Regions from separate parts of the Homo sapiens genome. Here regions 2, 3, 4, 5, 6 and 7 are each reported to be linked to region 1. Evidence: microRNA targets listed by miRTarBase, many of them from high-throughput screens and not tested one by one. Region 1 holds a microRNA gene; each other region holds the end of a gene's coding sequence.
Evidence for each region. Region 1 holds the annotated microRNA hsa-miR-548t-3p (AAAAACCACAAUUACUUUUGCACCA, at 2,103-2,127, shown strand). A microRNA usually pairs through its seed, bases 2 to 8, with sites in the 3' UTR of a target mRNA and lowers its output. Matches are read on the target gene's strand: a 7mer-m8 pairs with bases 2 to 8, a 7mer-A1 pairs with bases 2 to 7 and ends in A, and an 8mer does both.

Region 2: the mRNA of AP3B1 is a reported target of hsa-miR-548t-3p. The part of its 3' UTR that is shown has no 7-base or 8-base seed match.
Region 3: miRTarBase lists SLC30A4 as a target of hsa-miR-548t-3p. Seed matches in the 3' UTR shown: 7mer-m8 at 1,766-1,772 and 7mer-m8 at 2,220-2,226.
Region 4: miRTarBase lists KIF23 as a target of hsa-miR-548t-3p. Seed matches in the 3' UTR shown: 7mer-A1 at 1,990-1,996.
Region 5: the mRNA of MYOZ3 is a reported target of hsa-miR-548t-3p. Seed matches in the 3' UTR shown: 7mer-A1 at 1,414-1,420.
Region 6: the mRNA of TMX3 is a reported target of hsa-miR-548t-3p. Seed matches in the 3' UTR shown: 8mer at 756-763 and 8mer at 774-781.
Region 7: miRTarBase lists INHBA as a target of hsa-miR-548t-3p. Seed matches in the 3' UTR shown: 7mer-m8 at 1,496-1,502.

Annotation. Positions count from the first base shown.
Region 1 is chr8:123,345,986-123,349,084 of GRCh38, forward strand. MIR548AA1 (microRNA 548aa-1) reads left to right here and starts at 2,049; the gene lies at 2,049-2,145. ATAD2 (ATPase family AAA domain containing 2) reads right to left here. Exons shown (of 28, transcript NM_014109.4): 15 at 2,198-2,288; 16 at 1,107-1,421; 17 at 633-765; 18 at 101-287. It overlaps MIR548D1 (microRNA 548d-1), which reads right to left and starts at 2,145; the gene lies at 2,049-2,145.
Region 2 is chr5:78,000,328-78,003,426 of GRCh38, reverse strand. AP3B1 (adaptor related protein complex 3 subunit beta 1) reads left to right here. Exons shown (of 27, transcript NM_003664.5): 27 at 372-1,101. The coding sequence ends at 525. Among named protein-coding and RNA genes, the nearest start is that of TBCA, 230 kb to the right of the region's middle.
Region 3 is chr15:45,482,558-45,485,656 of GRCh38, reverse strand. It overlaps SLC30A4 (solute carrier family 30 member 4), which reads left to right. Exons shown (of 8, transcript NM_013309.6): 8 at 340-3,099. The coding sequence ends at 494. All of the region lies in intron 3 of SLC30A4-AS1 (SLC30A4 antisense RNA 1), which reads right to left. Among named protein-coding and RNA genes, the nearest start is that of SLC30A4-AS1, 35 kb to the right of the region's middle.
Region 4 is chr15:69,447,120-69,450,218 of GRCh38, reverse strand. KIF23 (kinesin family member 23) reads right to left here. Exons shown (of 24, transcript NM_001367805.3): 24 at 1,794-2,427. The coding sequence ends at 2,412. Among named protein-coding and RNA genes, the nearest start is that of RPLP1, 4.1 kb to the left of the region's middle.
Region 5 is chr5:150,676,492-150,679,491 of GRCh38, reverse strand. It overlaps MYOZ3 (myozenin 3), which reads right to left. Exons shown (of 7, transcript NM_001122853.3): 7 at 124-2,785. The coding sequence ends at 2,617. Among named protein-coding and RNA genes, the nearest start is that of MYOZ3-AS1, 5.5 kb to the right of the region's middle.
Region 6 is chr18:68,674,080-68,677,178 of GRCh38, reverse strand. TMX3 (thioredoxin related transmembrane protein 3) reads left to right here. Exons shown (of 16, transcript NM_019022.5): 16 at 1-3,099. The coding sequence ends at 246. Among named protein-coding and RNA genes, the nearest start is that of TMX3, 39 kb to the left of the region's middle.
Region 7 is chr7:41,686,770-41,689,868 of GRCh38, reverse strand. It overlaps INHBA (inhibin subunit beta A), which reads left to right. Exons shown (of 3, transcript NM_002192.4): 3 at 1-3,099. The coding sequence ends at 219. Among named protein-coding and RNA genes, the nearest start is that of INHBA-AS1, 5.6 kb to the left of the region's middle.

The DNA.
Region 1 (3,099 bases):
AATCAGAAAGACAAAAAAACACAATACAAAAAAATGGGGCAATTTTAGCTTTTGCCTCTGAAAGCCTGTTTTGTCTTATACTTGGGCACCAACAAATTACCTGGGCACATGTTTCTTCAGGGGATGTAGTACTAACTCCAAAAAGAACAGGAATGTCTAATGTATATACAGTAAACTTTTCCAAAGCATGAATGACAGCTGGTGCCAAGTGAGAACCTTGCCCAAATCCTGGTTCTCCTACTATCAATATTCTTGGTCGAAAAGACATAGGTTGGTAACAAGCATTTCTGAAAGAGAAATGATTAATAAGCTATGTTTTAGAAAAAACAGTTTAAATTTTCCCCCTAAATTGTCAACTATAAACTTTCATAAGTAAAAAGTCTTGCCAATAAGGCCAACCAATCATAACATGGTTCACATAGTTTCTGGAAACTGACCCCCAAAGGTTTTTAGGAATATTTTTATAGACTGTAATTTCTACTGTTGTGACAACTGTAACAACAAAAAATTTCTGGTAGTTTAATTTAAATAAAAAGCAGATTGGTTAGCACTTTTTATTTTTTCAACCACATCTCATTTATTTTTAGAAAATTTACACATGCAAAAAACATTGATTTGCAAGAAAAATATACCTATTCAAATGAAGAAAATTAAAATTGTCTTTTGCCTTATGAGAAGATTTCTGAGAAAGTCCATTTTCATAAACTGATGGAACATCATCATCACTGTAAGCCAAGTCACTTTCTAGCAGAGGACAAGAAATATCTATAAAACCAAAAAATTGTACATTAGTAACTTTTGGATTGCAAAGCAAATCTTTATTGCTTCAGTTACCAAGTCAGCATACTTCAATTAAATTTTTTCAAAGAATCAAAAATATTTGTGTAGATATGAATTAATAAGTAAATGTAAAAATGCACCCCAAACTTACAATAAGTTAAATTAAGGGCAATCCATGGAGTAAATTTCCTTCAAATATCCCAGGTAAAGCATTACCAAATTCTTTTCAAGAGATTCTTTTACAAATAAATATTTCTGGTATGTATGAAACATTTCACTTTACTGATTATAAAAACTAACTTTAAATGGTCAATCAAGTTTTATACCTGAGTCTAATGTTTTATTTGTTCTGAATTCTGCATGTGGAAATACTCTCTGCAGGGCTTCTAAAATCTTGTCAACAGTGTTTTGCAGGAGTGGTTTCACAACGGTGGACAGTGCCTGCCCAGGTGATGTCACAGCTCTTTGGGAGGCTGGTATCATCTTTTGCATAGCTACCTCGAAATCCTTAGCTGAGATATTAATTGAAGAGAGATCCAACTGCAGTTTCTCACTAGTGGTATAGATCTGTGGGTAGCGTCGTCGTAAAGCACATAAAGCAGCTTCAGCACATATTGATTTAATATCTGCTCCACAGTATCCTATCCAAAGCAACCAGGGGAAGAAAAGAACCAGCCGACCAAACAAAGAAACACAAAACTCTATTAGCATGACCATGGTTAAAAAAAAAATTAAAAATCAGCCTCGGAATATAGTTAGCAAATATTTAAGAGTAATAAGACCAAAATCTCTTTTACCCAGTAAACTTATAGGGTAGTAATGGCCATCAACAATCAATCAACTTTTAAGAGTGCAATACACAAGCACTAAGTATAGCACAGAGGTCAAAAGCAAGAGTTTTAAAATCACACAGACTAGATTCACATTCCAGTTTGTAATTTACTAGCTGTATGACCTTAGAAGATTCACATAATGCTCTCCAGCCATTTCTTCATCTGTAGAGATACTGCTACCTACATCACAGGAATGATGTGAAAATTACATGAAATAATATATGTAAAATGCTTAAAAGGATGACTACAAAATGGTCAGTAAAGAATAGCTATTATCTTATTATGATATAATAATATATTGTATTTTGTACAATTATATTATTATCTACTCTGCCCCTGATGGCCAATTTGTCAAATATCTCTATTTAATACCAAGACTTCATGAGAAGAAAATGCCACAAATAAGAGATAAGAAACAAATATAACCTTGTATTTCTTTATTAGTCTGGTGCAAAAGAAACTGTGGTTTTTGCCATTACTTTTACAGGCAAAAACCACAATTACTTTTGCACCAACCTAATATAACTTGTTTCATATTTGAAATAAATGTAGTATTTATTTTAACTGCTTAAAACAATGTTTACCAACACAGTTTTCTGCTAGCTCTTCTAAAAATGTGTCCAGTGGTTTGGGATTCCAATCCCTGGTGTGAATCTTTAGAATCTCTTTTCGAGCCTATGAATAAAAACAATTTAATTTTTTACAACTATAATAATAAATGCTATTCAGATTACATTAATTTTGATTAAAATACTTTTGATTATCTAAAATTTTAAAGTGATCAGTACTTAATACTGGCCGGGTGCGGTGGCTCACACCTGTAATCCCAGCACTTTGGGAGGCCGAGGCAGGTGGATCACTTGAGGTTGGAAGTTCAAGACCAGCCTGGCCAACATGGTGAAAACCACTCTCTACTAAAAATACAAAGATTAGCTGGGCGTGGTAGCATGTGCCTGTAATCCCAGCTACTTGGGAGTCTGAGGCACGAGAATTGCTTGAATCCCGGGGACGGAAGTTGCAGTGAGCTGAGATTGTGCCACTGCACCCCAGCCTGGGTGACAGAGCAAGACTTTATCATAAACAACCAACCAAAAAAACTCAATATAAGCAAAATATGAAAGTGAAAATAAGAAAAAGGATGTACTTTTAAGAGTTTAATGAACTTAAGTCTCATTATTAAACATATTTGCATTTATAGCACTAAAGTTATATTCGTCATAAACACAAATAAGAGAAAAGTAACTACTAAAGTAGCTATTCATTCTGGTGCATATTAAGAGCTGTTTTTAAGAGTACAGACAGCTCTTGACATATTTTCCTCTTTGGTTCCCAGAAGATTAAGTAGACTTAAAAAAACTCGGTAGGATTATATGATGATATTCATGAAAAAGACAAGGCTAACAAACTGGCTAAGGATTGATTACTCATTAAGCCATATGTTCTGAAGCAACACTTAGAACATCCAAAGGCTACACTCAAATTGAAA
Region 2 (3,099 bases), not on the chromosome of region 1:
ATACAATGGCTTATTTAAAATGTCCCTATGCATGGTGAAATGTTAAATACCAAGTGGATGAATGGTTCTCAAATATATTGTAATGGAGAATTATTCACATGCATCTATTGTTTAAACTAATAAGTAAAATAGACTTCCTTTTTCTGTTCTGTTTTAAATGTGCACTAAAATTACCTGCTTGTGGTTAGCATGGGCTGGACAGTTTATTGATTTTTCAGAAGAATGCTTGGCTTTGGGTTTTTGGCAATAGGGAGCCTGCAGCAAATTATTTCATTTGACAAAAAAGAGTTATTTTAATCCTATTTGAATGTATGCTATCTCCTTTACCCTCCCCATCTTATGATAAAAGGTCTCTCTTTTTTCTCTTCCAGGTTTGCAGCTAAAACTGTGCACAGTGGGTCATTGATGCTAGTCACAGTGGAACTGAAGGAAGGCTCTACAGCCCAGCTTATCATAAACACTGAGAAAACTGTGATTGGCTCTGTTCTGCTGCGGGAACTGAAGCCTGTCCTGTCTCAGGGGTAACCTGCTTACATCTGGACTTTAGAATCTGGCACACAACAAAAGTGCCTGGCATCCACTACTGCTGCCTTTCATTTATAATAATAGCCCTTCCATCTGGCAGTGGGGGTAGAATACACTCTTGACATTCTTGTCTCCTGCTTTAGAATGCTAGTGTGTATCTATCATGTATGCAATACTTTCCCCCTTTTTGCTTTGCTAACCAAAGAGCATATATTTTACTGTCAGTTGTCTCAACTCTTGAATCCATGTGGCGTTTTCTCTGTCCTGCTGCTTCTTTTGGCCTCCTCGTTTTCCTTCTCTTTTTCGACAATGGTAGACATGAATGAGATATTTAAAGTTCATTGGAAATCTTCTTCCCTACAGCAGTAAGCAAAAATTAGCAAAGAGATAGTCTAAATGGCCTCTCAGCTTGGTATGTGAAAATGAGATCACATACTTTTTAAATCCAAATACAAAAGCATAGTCTCTGCAAGATTTTGTTCTTTGAATTTCTTGATATTGTAATTGATTATTGATAACTGTCATCATGAAATTATCTCTCAATAATAAGATAAATAAACTAGCATATGAATCATATTTGTCTTTGCATTTTTAATGAGAAACTATTAATAATCCTGAAGTTCATATGCTAAAGTTTTCTTATTTTAAAGCAAGTATTTTGAGTGTTACATTATGCAGAGAAGCAATGTGGTTTAGTTAGCGAAAGAAAAACCACTTCCAAACCAAGTAAATTTTCTACTTATAGTTTACTCCAAGGAAAAAAAATTGGTGTATTTAATAACAAAAACAAAAATCTTCATATTGCAAAATAAACATCTTCTAGGTAGTTTTGATCTATTAGTAGATATCTGATTATGTGGCCTGCTGAATAAATTCTTTGAATCTCATTTTTCCTTATGCCCAACTTTGGAAACTAACTAGCATAAACTTATAGAAATGTTTAAAACTAGTTATATGATCAACCTATTAGCATCTTTTCCTAGAGTATTTGTTTTATTTGCTACCTTAAGTTACTGTTTTCAAGGTTGTTCTATAATCAGAGAACTTTTCTAATACTTTCGTACCTTTTTAAAACCAGCTGAAATTTTACTTCCTTTTTGAAGCAAGGTAATGGACTTTCAGGTAGTATAAGCTACTCAGTTCTTTTTGTATAGAGCCACATACATAATGATTTTTAAAAAGTAAAAAGGAAGTGACTGTACATTGCTTGAAGCATTATAGGAAGGCTGAAAAGAAAAGAATGGAATTTTCTTGGAACATACATATTGAAAAGAACAAAACAGAGTCGAAAAATTATTTAAATTTTCAAGCTGGTGGGATGACAAGAGTAAACAAAATTGTTAAATTTTCCTGCTCCAGAAAGAAATATAGCCCTGAATCTCCGGGAAGAGAATGTACAGAAGTGCAATGTACAGAAGCCACGTGTACATTTTGTGCCAATTCCGTACCATGTGTACATTCTGTACCATTCTGTACCAATGTATGGAAGCCACGAGTTCCACTTCCCTCTGGAGCCTGGGCGCTGTGGTAACACACCCAAAAGCCCCTTTGTAATCGCAGGTCGTTGGCATTTCCATATTAGCCTTATTGCTCAGAGCTTCATAACTTTGAATTTTAAGTCAATAACTTTTTGAAATGTCAGACAGAATTTGACAGGTTTAATACCTGTTTTCTGAGGAAGAAAAAAAAATTATATCCATGCTGTCTTCAGGCAGAGGGAAAGTGCATGTTGTGATTGAGAAAGGTCTTATTTTTCCTTAAATTAGGACACTCATCTTTAAAAGATAGTTCACACATTTGTATTTTTTTAAACTAAGGAAATTTAATTAGGGCTTTACTTTTGACTAAGTTATTTTTGGCTGCTAACTTTTAAAATTATGGTAAATCAATAATATAATGTAGTATGAATCAGTGAACAGTATGTATCGATTGTAATGTGCGCTACCAGTTGAAACCATTTTAACACTAGTAGCTTAATATCATTAAAATGTTTTTCACGTAAAACAGAAAAACGACCAAAGCCCCAAGTTAAAGGTTTGGTTTTTTTTCTTTTGTGGTGTGGTGATTCAGAGTTCCTTGCCTCATATTTCCTTTAACTTTGTCATAATCCATGATTATCTTTAAATTGTTCCATTGAGTCGAGTTAGTCAATGTTGAATTCTTAATTCTAGCTATATTTTTTCATTTTAATGTTCACTTAATGGGACATTTTATGTACACCAATCTTGAAGAATGGCTCTCATAGTATATTTCAGACTAAGCCTCATTTTTGATATCACAATACATTTGCTTTATTTATTATGAGAGTTTTTTTATTCTAAAGAGACTGTAACAATGCATTTCTCAAATTAAAATACTGTATACTTGTCCTTCTCGATAACTATTTGCAAACGTATGAATAACTTTATAGCTTACAAAACGTTTGCCCTTATAACCTGTGTTCCCGTTGTTAAGAATTTAGATGTTAGACAAGATAAGAATCCAGACTGATGGAAGATTTCAAAAAAAGAAAAGTTGGACCAGCTAAAAGAGAACCTAAGATCTTTCCCCTGACTTGTTCCCTCTCTGTTGTCT
Region 3 (3,099 bases), not on the chromosome of region 1:
TTCAAGTCATTTCACAGATTGATGCTATTGATGCTTTTTAAATCAAAATAATACATGCATGAGGTTTACTTTTAATGTGCACAAGATATTTTAATGACAGGTTTGTAACTGATGTCTGGTATTTTTTCTCTACCTGAGAGTAGACTGGAGAGGTTAGAATAATGAGAAGCCATTAAGGATGTGTAAATTGACCTACTTATCTAACAGAATAGCTTAGAGAGGGTAGAAATCAGACTAATAAAAATATATTCCCAGTATATTTCAGTTGTTTTTTTCCCTGTATCTTATTCAAGATGTAACTGTACAATGGATAGTAATGATATTTTCTTGACATTGCAGTTCCTGGAAGTTCATCTAAATGGGAGGAAGTACAGTCCAAAGCAAACCATTTATTATTGAACACATTTGGCATGTATAGATGTACTATTCAGCTTCAGAGTTACAGGCAAGAAGTGGACAGAACTTGTGCAAATTGTCAGAGTTCTAGTCCCTAATTTTATGTATTTTGGGAACTCCTGCCTTATTTATCCTGCAGTCACAGACTTGAGAGCAATAAATGCAAACCTAAATGAGAAAATGGAATCCCTGACAGCTGTGTCCGTATCAAGCATCAGTCTCTCAAACAGTTGCCCCAGCCTGACAGTGCTAGTCTCTGTTTAATGGTAAAAGGAGACTTTGCCATAATTTTCAGATGAAGATGTTTCCCAAACACTGTTTACAGAATGAGATGTGACTCTACAGATACCTCATAGAAGACAATCCAAGATCATACTTCATTAACTTGACAGAGTACGTGTCTTAAAGGAAGCATCAAGAATTCAATATTTGCATTTAAAAATACTTTTTAAGGCCATTTTATATTAAGCCAGTGCTGGAAAACTGAATTTTTTTTATTATGTATAATAATCTCGACACCCAGCTTCTGGAATTGCTGCTTTCTTTTTACAGAAATTACTACCCAACAGATTTCAGGAAGTACTAGTAGTTATCCCAAAAGTGGAATAAGCATGTATTCCTAAGTGTTTCAGAAATGTTTTATTTCACACATAAGTCTTAATGTTATTGTTATGATTATACTTTATAAACAACCTTTTCCAGATGCTACAGGGTTTTGAATCTCAAAGTTAACATTTTTCATTATTTGTAATCTTAGAACCAAATCTTTATTTATTGTGGTCACTGTTATTAAATGATTTAGGAAATACTTTCAATATTATTCTGAATGGCTGAAGTTAGTCTTAAACTCAAATTACTATATGATGATTTAAAACAAAATAAAAGAGCGAGGATGGGGGTTGGAGTTTCAGGTTTATGTCTTCCCGACATCACTTTTATCATTCATGAAATTGTCTTAAAAAAGCAAGAGACTGCAAAATGTAAACAGTAATCTTCTGTCCCTTTAAGAACTGCCAACAATTTGTACAAAAAATGTGGTACGTTGGTTCCTGCCTCCACTCCAGGTCATCTGTGTGTTTAGCCTTTCAGGGTAAACTCTAGAGGGTTCAGTTTATAATTCCCACCTTTCACATATAGTTCAACAACATTAATCCAGAGAGAATTTTATGTTTTATGATATGGGTTATGTTTTATTATATATTTTATGTTTTATGATATGGGTTAGGGATTCTCCATGGACTCCAGAAACCCTAAAATACAATTTTGAGGTTTTCCAATAATACCATAGCAGAAATGTCCAAGGGGTTGGGGGAAGATATTACTTTGAGAAAACAGAAATGTAAAGGATTTTTGACCTTATATATGTGTGTGGTTTTGTTTTTGTTTTTGTTCTTGAGAGAGTCTCACTCTGTCACCCAGGCTGGAGTGCAGTGGCGTGACCTCTGCTCACTGTAACCTCTGCCTCCTGGGTTCAAGTGATTCTTCTGCCTCAGCCTCCCAACTAGCTGGGACTACAGGTACACCACACCCAGCTCATTTTTTTGTATTTTTAGTAGAGACAGGGTTTTGCCACATTGGCCTGTCTGGTCTTGAACTCCTGACCTCAGGTGATCCGCCTGCCTTGGCCTTCCAGAGTGCTGGGATTACAGCATGAGCCACCATGCCTGGCCTGTATGTGTGTGTTTTAAAGCACTAGATAGGGATGGACATTAAATCTGTGTTGCAGGGAAACTAAACAGAGGTTTCCAAACTGAAGGCAACCTAATTGTAAATGCCTGTGTTAAAGAGGCAGCTTGACTGTTCATGTTTCATTTTGCAACCATTGGTTTTGAGATTATCTTTTATGCACATTTGGAGTCCCTTTTCAACAGTGACAGTTTCTTACACGAAGAATGGATATGGTTATTGGGCTCCTCTAAGAATCAGAGTAGGGTAACAATGTACCAGGCAAATTGTAAGTTGAAATTCTAGATAAGCATGCAGATGACTTACAATATAAATGAAGAATAGGAAACATTTTATCTTCTTACCAAGTACCTTACTATAAGTAAACCTAAGATAAGAAAACCCAGATTTACCTATAAGATTGTTGGGAGTTAATGGTGTCAATAAAAGGATTGATGGTCCCTCTAATGAAACCCAGTAGATGTTTGTTGAATTGAACTGAAAATTTATGTGGCCAGACACAGTGGCTCATGCCTGTAATCTCAGCATTTGGGGAGGCAAAGGTGGAAGTATCCCTCGAGGCCAAGAGTTCATGACCAGCCTGGTCTTTTGTAGAGACCCTGTCTCTACAAAAATATAAAAATCAGCCAGGCGTCGTGCACACCTGTAGTATCAGCTACTTGTAAGGCTGTGGCAGAAGTGCTTTAGCCCAGGAGGTTGAGGCTGCAGTGAGCCATGTCCACACCATTGCACTGCAGCCTGAGTAACAAAATGAGACCCTATCTCAAAAACAAAAAGGAAAAGAAAATATACATGATGGGATTCCTATTGTGAAGTCATTTAAAATAATGACTTGAATTTCTCAGAAATTTCAGGAGCATATAAACTATTTAAATCAAAATATTCTTACATATAGAAACCAAGTAAGAATAAATGAGAGATATTTCAGTGGACATCTGGACATATTTATGGACTTTGAGTATCTAGCAAGTAGAAAGGAAAAAAATATTCATCATACTCTAATCATTTTTTTATATC
Region 4 (3,099 bases), not on the chromosome of region 1:
ACTCCTGACCTCAAGCCATCCTGTTTCAGCCTCTCAAAGTACTGGGATTACAGTTGTGAGCCACCATGCCCGGGCTGTCTCTATTATTTTAAATAATAATTTAAAAAGCAGGCTGGGTGCTGTGGCTCATGCCTGTAATTCTAGCACTTTGGGAGGCCAAGTCGGGAGGATTGCTTGAGGCCAGGAGTTTGAGACCAGACAAGGCCACAGAGCAAGGCCCCATCTCTACAAAAAATAAAAAATTAGCCAGGTGTGCTGGCATTTGCCTGTAGTTGCAGCTACTCAAGAGGCTGAGGTGAGAGGATTGCTTGAGCCTGGGAGGTTGAGACTACAGTGAGCTGTGATCATGTCATTGCACTCCATTTTGGGTGACAGAATGAGACCCCATCTCAAAAAAGAAAGAAAAAAGCCAGCCTAGGCAACATAGCAAGACACCAGCTCTACAAAAATATTTTTAAAAATTTAATTAGCTGGGCATGGTGGTGAGCACCTGTAGTCCCAGCTTCTTGGGAGGCTGAGGCAGGAGGATCACATGAATCCAGGAGTTTGAGGTTATAGTGAGCCATGATTGCACCACTGCATTTCAGCCTGGGCAACAGAGCAAGACCCTGTTTCTAAAAAAAAAACTTTAAGAAGAAAATCAAGAAATAAATTCTGTATCTACTGCAATAGCAATTTAACCTTTAGTGTCCTGAAGCGTTCTAAAAACACACATATAGGCCAGGTGCAGTGGCTCACGCCTGTAATCCCAGTACTTTGGGAAGCTGAGGAGGGCGGATCACCTGAGGAGTTCAAGACCAGCCTGACCAACATGGAGAAACCCCGTCTCTACTAAAAATACAAAATTAGCTGGGCCTGGTGGCTCATGCTTTTAATCCCAGCTACTGGGGAGGCTGAGGCAGGAGAATCGCTTGAACCCAGGAGGCGGAGGTTGCGGTGAGCCGAGATTGCGCCATTGCACTCAAGCCTGGGCAAGAGTGAAAATCCATCCCTCCCCTCAAAAACACACACACACACACATATATGACATTGTTTACTACTATACTGTGAGTGACTAGTGCATTTTGTCTTCTCCCTTAACTTTTGAGTTGGCTTTTGGCAAGGACTGATATCACACTTTTATTATTAATAACAAAAGATTAAACTATCATTTTAGTTAAAAAAAAAAAAAAGTGGCCGGGCACAGTGGCTCACACCTGTAATCCCAGCACTATGGGAGGCCGAGGCAGGTGGCTGAGGTTGGGAGTTCAAAACCAGTCTGACCAACATTAAGAAACCATCTCTACTAAAAATACAAAATTAGCTGGGCGTAGTGGCGCATGCCTGTAATCCCAGCTACTCGGAGGCTAAGGCAGAGGAATTGCCTGAACCCAGGAGACAGAGTTTGCGGTGAGCCAAAATCGTGCCATTGCACTCCAGCCTAGGCAACAAGAGCGAAACTCATCTCAAAAAAAAAAAAAGCTCAGCCTCAAAAGAAATCCAAATTAAATCCAAGTAAAATGTGTGTTCACCCATGCAATGGGATATTTCACCATGGTTTCGACAGTATTTTTTCTAATTTATGTTGTCCCCAAACTATGCTTTTTGTTTAAATGTCTAGAAGTCATACTTAATATGTAGATAATTATGGTTGTCACATAAAAAAAGGCATTGTCCGTTTAACATCATATTATCTTGTATTTTTTAGAGCTTTCTTTTAATTCATCCCGCAAACAATGAGTGCCAGGTAAATGCAGGGCACTGTGCCAGGTGCTGGGAGGACGTGTTGAATGAACAGCCATCACACAACTATGTATTTCTTAGTGCTTTTGATTTTAATTCTTTTGGCATATCTAAATGTCAGAAAGTGAATATATACATACAGAATTCAAAACACCTTCCTAAAATGGTTATTATTGGCCAGTCATTTACATCTTTATTTTGAAAGTCTGAATTGTCAAATAGTTCTAAAGTGCATTCTTGCAGCTAATAAATAGCAGCATTTGTTTATAAAACCTTAAGAAATTCAGACCAGGGCTGGAGAAGTCACAATAAAAAATCAGACATGATCTAGATATAGTCTTCCTTAATCATCTAAGACAAACACTTGTGTGAATTAGTTTATAAGTATACATGAAATATATTTTAAAAAAACATTATAAAAAATTCATACAGTGATGAAAAAAGGAGTCTTCCTCTGCTATTAATATTAAATATGGCAAAACATATACTATACAAGGTTTGTTGAATACTAGTTGTCTTTGGAACCATAGGGAAAGCTTTGCTCTGGGTCAGTGTATGATGTAGCTGAGGTCCGTGATTTTCAACAAAGCTGGAGTTCTACAAGATGACCTGGAAGACTGCTTCTGGCATGGCTTTCGAGAAATCATCCACACAAATGAAAATGTTCTTTCAGTACTGGGACTGTCAGTTCATGGCTTTTTGCGCCTAAAACATAACAACCAGCACTTAGAGTTGAACTTTGCAATTAGTAACACATTCATAGCAAATCAATCTTTAGGAGGCCTTTGAGAACTGCTGTTTTATGATGAGATAATTCAAGTCCCTCTGAGAAAGCAAACAACTTTTATAAAATATGCTTATCTTAGTATTAAATTTAGAAAGGATTTCCCATCTTTATCCTGCTGCAACAATTTTCTAAATTGCTCAGTAAGGTATGTAAATGTTTAAAATGTTATATACATATAACATTTTATATACATATATGTATATAACATGTGATATACATATATGTATGTATTTGTAAAGAAGGGATTTTATTAAAATATGGAAAAAGACTGGGTCAGACTCCTGAGTATAAGTTTAACAGAAGAAGAAAAGGTATGATTCCTTCCCTACTATAAATTCTTTCATTCAGTGTTATTTATTTTAGTGAACACCTATTGCTACACCAAGACCAAGAAGCAAGTCAGGAAACAATGATTTACACAAAGCTGTCTAGTCTCCAACTTAAGCCTTTAGCCTTCCCTCCTTAGAGGTACTCTCAGTTCAGCCTCAGAAAGCTTTATGAGCGTTGGCAGAATATGAACATGAGCCACCAATCTTCCACCACCGCCTGCCTTGCAGCTCTGATTGCTCTTATCCAGCCTTCTGAGGCTC
Region 5 (3,000 bases), not on the chromosome of region 1:
TCTACAATTCTAGAAGGACCAAATTGTCATCAGTGGTTACCTCTGGTGTGTAGGAATGGCAGAGGTAGGAAGGTGTACATATGTATGTGGGAGGACTATGTGGGCAGACACTTCACATTTTACTCCTTGCTTATTATTATTTTTTTATTTTTACAATGAGCATTCTTTTTTTTTTCTTTTTTACAACACCAGAAAAAGTCACATTCTCAGAAGAAGAAAGGATTTGTTTTGGGTGCAGTGGTCTCCCCACCAGGCTCCTTTTCATACCTGGTGGCTGCAGTTACTTTCCAGAGCACAGCAGAACCAACCTGAGGCAACTGGAGTCCTCTTGTCTACTTTTCAGATTCTTGAATGGCTGGTCTTCAGCTCATGGAAACCTGGCTTTAAATGGCAGCCCCCAAATTCAAGAGAAAACACCAATTGCAAGCAATTCTAAAAGTCAGGCCATTGGGCCCTTGGGACCCAGAAGGGGAGTGAAACTCCAGAGCAAAAGGAAAATGCAATCGCTATCCCACACACCCTGGGAATGGGCTGGACTCCTGACCTTCCCCATCGCCCCCAGAGAGAGAGGCAGGGAGAGCTCTACAGCAATGAGAGGCTTTCCTTCAGGCTTCAGCTTTAGTGACCCCCAGTGACATCTTAGCAGCCAGCTTCTCATGCTGCATCCAGTGCAAGAACAACTTTTCCAGCCTAGAGCAGCAGTTGCATGAAACCTACCATTGACTGAGCTCTTATTATAAATGTGCCCTGCACTGTGTTCACAACAAACCCATAAAGGAGGTTTTATACTTGTCCTCATCTTACACTTGGAGAAACAGAGGCTCGGAGATGTGAAATGACTTGCTCAAGTTCATCCGGCTAGCAGTGGCAGAGTTAGAACCTACCCCATCCAGTCTGACTCCCAAGCCTGCACTCAACTTCTAAACTCCAAGGCAGGGCATCACAGTCAGATGATTTCAGAGCGAGTGGGCATTGACCACCCAGTGCACTGAAAAGAGACATCCACTGGAATCAGATTCCCATTTGGTGTCTGCCCCTGGACAAGTCACTTCCTCCTTTTGGCCTAAATATCCACATCTGTAAAGTGGGGACAACAATATCTTTCTCTCAGGGTTGTTCTGAGAATTAGAAATAAGATATGTAGAGAAACTACTACCAGCCCAAGCACTGAGGCACTCGATATAAAGCTGCCATCATCATCATCATCATCACCACCACTTTAAGCAGCCTGCTCAAAATGGAGTGGAAAGAAGGAATCTTAATAAGCACCCCACTTTGCACCTGTCCTGTTAGGTGCCCAGTGGGTGGCCCCTTCTCTCCATTCCCATGGCCTCATCCCTTGCAGGCTTCCTGGCTTCTGGCATTACCCTTCTCCAATATGCGCCCCACACAGCACCCAGCAAGACCCATCACTAAAACCTTCCCCATTTCCTTAGTGAAGCCCACCCCATGCTGGCCCTCACTGGCTCCTCTAGCACAGCCTTCTCCCTTCTGCAGAACACCCTGCACCCGTGCTCAGTTCCATATTTTTGCACATGCTGGTCCACTTTCCAGAAATACCCTCCCCCTCACACCCCCTTCATGGACTCTCACGCCTCCCACAAGGTCCCACTCAAATCCTTCAGGAAGCTTCCAGAATCCCATCTCACACCTAGGGTGAGGGACTCCTTCTTCTGCTCCACAACACTTTGTTCCTCAATTGTCAATAAGCATGCTTTAGGGAAAATTATGGTGACTTCATGCTCTATAATGTCTTCCCTACTGTCTTTTCCTCCTCGAGGCCCGGGCCTGGCAGTGTCTAGCGCACAGTCAGCGCTTAGGAACTGTTTAGAGCATGAATAGATGAAGACCAACTGCATCTCAGTAAAAGGAACATTTTCTAATTATTTGAGTTATTCACAGGAAGATGGGGTGCCAGTGAGCACCCTGTCACCGGGGGAGTGTACACTACAGGAACAGGAAAGAGCAGAGGTGTGGATGTGGACTCCTAATGACACAAACCATGGATAAGTTATGCTGGAATCACCTGGAGTACTGGTTGCTATTTATTTATTTACTTTTGAGAAGGAGTCTCACTCTGTTGTCCAGGCTGGGGTGCAGTGGCGCAATCTCGGCTCACTGCAACCTCTGCCTCCTAGTTCAAGTGATTCTCCTGTCTCAGCCTCCCAAGTAGCTGGGATTACAGGCATGCACCACCATGTCCGACTCATTTTTGTATTTTTAGTAGCGACGGGGTTCCACTATTTTGGCCAGACTGGTCTCAAACTCCTGACCTCAGGTGATCCTCCTGCCTCGGCCTCCCAAAGTGCTGGGATGACAGGCGTGAGCCACGACACCCGGCCCTGGTTGCTATTAATAATACAGATTCCTCGACTCAGGAGACTCTGATGCTGCAAGTCTGGGACAGTCCAGTTGTCTGGATTTGGAACAACATCCCCAGGTAATTTTGAAACACACCCATGTTTTGGGACGACTGAACTTGGTGACCTCTGAAGCCATTTGCAATCAGGTTTTGTGTGTGAAGGCCCTTCTTCAACTGTGAAGTGCTGTCCACAAGTCTTGGCTCCGGATGTTACCAGGCCCCCGAGACTGGGGAACTGAAGATTCAGGCTAGGGCTACAGCTCCTCGGACTCTGGGAGGTTACGGACCCAGCCCTGGGCCACTCTGTTGAAGCTGGGTCTGAGACGGAGGAGTTCCAAGCCACTGAGGGGCTCCGGGATGAAGGGGGTGCCTGGCCTGGGAAAAGTGCCCCCCACGAGGGGTCCTCCAAATGGCACCGGGGTCCTGGAGAAAGAGAGCAGCAGGAGAGGTGGGCTGTGTGGAACAGGGACAGCAGTACACTGACATGTGGATCACCATGTATGGGCCCCTCCCTGCCGCTCTCTGAGCCTCAGTTTTCCCTTCTATACAGCAAGATTCTGTACATCTTTTTTTTTTTTTTTTTTTTGAGACAGAGTCTCGCTCTGTCACCCAGGTTGGAGCGCAGTGGGGTGATCTCA
Region 6 (3,099 bases), not on the chromosome of region 1:
TCACCACTGATGGGCTGCTTTCTCTTTGGCCTGCCACTGGGTGTCATCAGTATCATGTGCTATGGAATCTACACAGCCGACACAGATGGAGGTTATATAGAAGAACGATATGAAGTGTCTAAAAGTGAAAATGAAAACCAAGAACAGATAGAAGAGAGCAAAGAACAGCAGGAGCCCAGCAGTGGAGGATCTGTAGTGCCTACAGTGCAGGAGCCCAAGGATGTATTAGAAAAGAAGAAAGATTGAGACTTGATGACTATAAAATATTTGTTAGGACTTCAAATTATTAAAGAGTCTATTTATTGAATTTAGACATTTAATCATGATCTTTACAGAAAAGAACATGTTATTCGTATTTTGCTAATATCAACTGCATGGATTAAAGTAGTCCCTCCATACATGGGGAAGTGTTTGGAGCAAAGAGATGAACAGTTTGTCTGAAACAAACACAGAGCACTCCATCAAAATTTACCTGATCTTTGTGATTAGAACAGAACAATTCTATTTGCATGTTTCTCTATCTGAATATTCTGTGACAAAAAGTTAAGATTCTTGGGCAGAATATTTAAATTGGTCAGTCAGGTAGAAGATACATGTGTGATATAGAAAAATAATGCCTCTCCTGCTGCCATCCGTTTCCCTCATATATTTTGGACAAGATTTATATGGACAAAATTAAGTCTTTAAAATTTAGGCACTTTAAGGAGAACTAATAACTTTTTCCATGTATCAAGATTATGAGGTTAAAAATAATGTGGTTTTATATAGCATAGTGGTTTTATTTTGTTAGTTATTTTTAAAGGAGAAGAAATGTTACTTTTTAACTTTATACTCAGTTGCATTATCATAAAATTTTCATATATGCCTAGATAATGGGGAAAAAAAGTCTTGTGATTGACTTTCGCAAAATAAACAGGATTTACTGAGTAGAGGTTTCAGCCCATTCCTTGGAATACTAACAGGTATTTCATCAGTCATTGTAGGTTGGGAAGGGTCTCTGTTAATCCTACTCTGCTTTAGCCAGAATAGCCTAGTATTTTATTTCTATTTTATATATTGAGATTTCTTCTAACATTTCCTTTGATAAAAATCTTCTGCTTTTTGAAAAGTGGTATGTATCATATTTTTATGTTTCTGGTGTGTGAACTTTATGGTAACTTCTACTCTAGAATACGTACGTATGCACCCACAGACACACACAGTTTATTGACACATCTATTATGTAATGCTGTAGACCTGTCCGTGTCTGCTTCATAAGGAGTAACGACTGACATTAGCATGTCCAGTGACAAGTCACATCCGGTGTAAAAAAAAGAGATCAGCCAGTTACCTTCTCCATTGTCTTAGTTCTGTCACCCATTTCGTCAAGTGACCTCTCATCTTCTATAAACTAATACAGGAATTCTTTCCAAAGCAATGTCTAAAAACTCTTTTTTTTAAAGTAACAGTTTGGTATGTTTATTGTAGATAAATTATTTTTGAGGCCTTCATTTTAGCTAAGTTTAGAATTTATATTAGGCAACTATGATTTGAGTGGTTATTCATTGAGTAATTTTCCACTATAAAGAATTTTATTGAACATTTATTAAAAAATAATGTAATGCATGGTCAAAAAATATGTAATTCATGGTCTGGACACTGACGTTGTTTAGGGATTTAGTCATCAAGGACAGCCCTCTGTTGTTTCTAATGCCGTACTAATCAAGACTGTATGGACACTTGCATCTTAAGTACTAAGGAATTACTAGTGATTGTTTTATTTTATCCATGTACTCTTTTAGTATTTAATAATTAAATACCTATTCTTAGTGTTTGACACTCCATATTTCTTTTTTTTGGAAATGAAACAAATATGCAGTCCAAAATTCAGGAACTACTAGAGTGAAATGATATTAAGTGGAAACCAGAGATAAATGCTGTTAATTTAACAAGTAGATTCTTCTCCAAAGAATGATGAGTGATTCTTGGGAAGATAAATGTTAATGTTCCCAATAGTCAAGCTTGTTTTGCAGTAGTGAAAAGCTTAGATGAGTACGGATACCTCATTTGAAACTCAGCCTAGTAAGGAAGTGAAAACTTAGCAGTCAGTGACATGGGGAAATAGTTATAGAAAATGTCACTGAATTTTTTCATATTTATAATTAGTCATTTACATATTTTTGTCTTGTTGATCATTACCTGTAAATGAAAGACCTTAATAGGAAAAAAAGAGTAAAGCTCAGTGTGAATGCAAACATCCACAAAATATGATCTTCGTTTATATTCTGTGATGTTGTTTATAAATGAATGCCTCAGTTCTCTGCTACCCTTTTCACAGCTTTGTACTGTTTGCCTTATATTCTATTTGTGCTTTTAAAGTGTGTCTGTTGGGAAAACAAAATGTGTAGGTGGTTTGTAAGTGAATAATTTTTATTTCTTCTTGTATTAAAATTTTGTTTTTTTCTCTACTTTGGGAGATGTTTATTTACATTGTCAGACTATTCACAAAACAGATTCTAAAATTTGTTTGCTCGTATGCTGTTCCCTTCAATGTGATATCAGAGATTACTATGAATGTTAGTTTCATTCCGTGAAACATTACTTCCATATAAAGACAGATCTCTTAATAAGTGAATCTAGTGGAAGAACATAGGTATCATTCTAATTCCATGGTAAATTTTGTCATGATTCTATATGAATAATGGGGTCCTTCAGGAAGTTGGAATTTTTGCCTTCTCTTTTAATTGCAGTGAAGTTCTCTTTATAACTTCTAAAATTCGGAATTCTAGATCCTTGCTTTTGCAGAATTTGGTGCTCAGACAATATTTAAGGACATTTCAGCGAGACAAAGTGCATGTTTTTATCGAGTACCCTGTGCACCACATTATATCTGGCAATTCTTTTTGTTTCATTATGTGCATCAATATTTTTCTCAGCTACTATTACCTGAAACTTGTTTAACATGTATTAGACCTAGAATTTTCATTTTCTTTCTCACATAGTTGCTTCCTGGTATCTGATTTAGAAATAACATTTAAATGCCAAGTATCTGGGGGATTGAAGGAAGGGTCTATATGAGCAGGTGAATTAGCAGTACTGTTTTTGTTTAGTGGATATTGT
Region 7 (3,099 bases), not on the chromosome of region 1:
CCGAGCCATATAGCAGGCACGTCCGGGTCCTCACTGTCCTTCCACTCAACAGTCATCAACCACTACCGCATGCGGGGCCATAGCCCCTTTGCCAACCTCAAATCGTGCTGTGTGCCCACCAAGCTGAGACCCATGTCCATGTTGTACTATGATGATGGTCAAAACATCATCAAAAAGGACATTCAGAACATGATCGTGGAGGAGTGTGGGTGCTCATAGAGTTGCCCAGCCCAGGGGGAAAGGGAGCAAGAGTTGTCCAGAGAAGACAGTGGCAAAATGAAGAAATTTTTAAGGTTTCTGAGTTAACCAGAAAAATAGAAATTAAAAACAAAACAAAAAAAAAAACAAAAAAAAACAAAAGTAAATTAAAAACAAAACCTGATGAAACAGATGAAGGAAGATGTGGAAAAAATCCTTAGCCAGGGCTCAGAGATGAAGCAGTGAAAGAGACAGGAATTGGGAGGGAAAGGGAGAATGGTGTACCCTTTATTTCTTCTGAAATCACACTGATGACATCAGTTGTTTAAACGGGGTATTGTCCTTTCCCCCCTTGAGGTTCCCTTGTGAGCCTTGAATCAACCAATCTAGTCTGCAGTAGTGTGGACTAGAACAACCCAAATAGCATCTAGAAAGCCATGAGTTTGAAAGGGCCCATCACAGGCACTTTCCTACCCAATTACCCAGGTCATAAGGTATGTCTGTGTGACACTTATCTCTGTGTATATCAGCATACACACACACACACACACACACACACACACACACAGGCATTTCCACACATTACATATATACACATACTGGTAAAAGAACAATCGTGTGCAGGTGGTCACACTTCCTTTTTCTGTACCACTTTTGCAACAAAACAAAACAAACAACATTAAAAAATTGAGAACAAGTATGGAAAGAATGAAAGATCAAGGAAAAAAGAATACCAAGTTACATTTCGTTAAGGTGCTTATGATCTTAGAACTATGCAACCTAATAGGTTTGAAACTGTTTACCTGAGAGAGAACAAAAAGAGAGACTTTTTTGTATTGGAAGTAATCTGATTAATTTTTATTTTCTTCAAGGAGAGATACTTGAAAGGAATATGTTTGTCCATCTGTTGGATCCAAACATTTCTATATTTTGTAAATGTTGTTGTTGTTTTTTTTTTAATCGTTTACTATTTGCACTACAATGGTGTTTGACCTGTCTAATCCTTATTTAACAAGTATTTTCTTTGGTTGGGGGTGGGGGTGGGGTTTAAGAGCTGCACTTAATGTGAGCTATAAAAGAACTGCTACAGCACACAAAATAGCTATTTTTATTATTATAATTATAATTATTATTATTATTTTGTACCTTAAAAAATAGACACATACACCAAAGACATTTGTGTGAGCCTTTAAACAGTCTGTCTGTGGTTGGTATCATTCACCATCAATGAGTCAGGGGTTGGGATTCAAGGTTGAGTAGTGTGGATTGTGTTCAGGCTTAAAAGACCTGAGAAGTTTGGTTTTTGACTCCTTTTACATCCATGAAACAGGACATTTCATACTGGATGTACAGTAGTTGTACACTGTTGGATATCAAGTTCAATCAAATTCATGGAACTACATGCTTGTATGTGTATATATACATTGCTTGTGCATATGCATATCTGTATGTATATATACATGTATTGTACCATGTCCATACACATTTTAAGCACTTCAGGCTGTCATTTTTTAATGTTCTTAAAGCAATGAATGTTTGTGTGCAAAACACAGTATTTTTAAGAAGGATAGGCTATAGTTTTTGCTTTTACTCTGAACTAGGTGGGCGCATTTCAAAAATTCGGATGGGAAAAAGCCTGGAAATTCCAGTGAATATTCAGCAAGGCCCTCTTTCATTGTACAGGGATCAAATTTCCTCCTCTTTTTTGTGCCCCCTCCCACTTCTACAAGTTATCCCCTGTGGGGAAAACAGGATGATAATCAAAACTCTGGGCTGATGTTTTTCCAACTTAGTGTCTATTGGAATCAATCTTAAATCAGAAGCTTTTTCAGAAAAATAATATTTAGGCCAGAATTAGAGTTGAGTGTATTTTTTAAAAATGATTAAGGCTTGGTTGTGAGAAATATTACCTGTACCAGCTGGGAAAAATAATGTCATCACTAACTAAAAGATAATTAATTTGAGAGAAAGTGTTAAGAGAGGGAGAGTAAGGAAGAGAACAGTTAAGAGGAGGCAGAGGTGAGGGCAGTAGTAAAAATCTCTAAAATTTTAATTTACAGCCAAAATTCTTCATGTGTAAATTTGTATTGATTCAGATGCAGAAATGAAAAAAAAACACCTTTGTTTTATAAATATCAAAGTACATGCTTAAAGCCAAGTTTTTATCTAGTTTATTCTAGTACTTAGCTTGCCTGGAATAGCTAATAAATTATTCATGTATGTGCTTTTGAAAATCCAGAGCCCTATTTTTACACACTTGTGTGAAGTTGGCAAACATTTTGAAAAATGGAAAAAAGTTTCTAATAATTGGGAACAATTACATTAATTAATATTTTGTAAAATATTGAAGCTTTTAGCCCTATGTCAATTTGTAGATTAAAATAAATTAATTATAGGAAAGGAAGATAACAGTGAGAAACCAAACATTACAAAAGGTGGTTTAGCTCTCCTTGAAAAATATACTAAGTTGGTATACTATAACACTTGGCTATATGTAGGCAATGTCACTACTGGGCAAATACACTTACTGTGTTCTAGAGGCAGCCCTTTCTTATGCAGAAAATACAATACGCACTGCATGAGAAGCTTGAGAGTGGATTCTAATCCAGGTCTGTCGACCTTGGATATCATGCATGTGGGAAGGTGGGTGTGGTGAGAAAAGTTTTAAGGCAAGAGTAGATGGCCATGTTCAACTTTACAAAATTTCTTGGAAAACTGGCAGTATTTTGAACTGCATCTTCTTTGGTACCGGAACCTGCAGAAACAGTGTGAGAAATTAAGTCCTGGTTCACTGCGCAGTAGCAAAGATGGTCAAGGCCATGGAAAAAGCAGAAATTTACCAAGAAAGCTGATACCCATGTATAGTTCCCACTCATCTCAAATACATCTGCTATCTTTTTA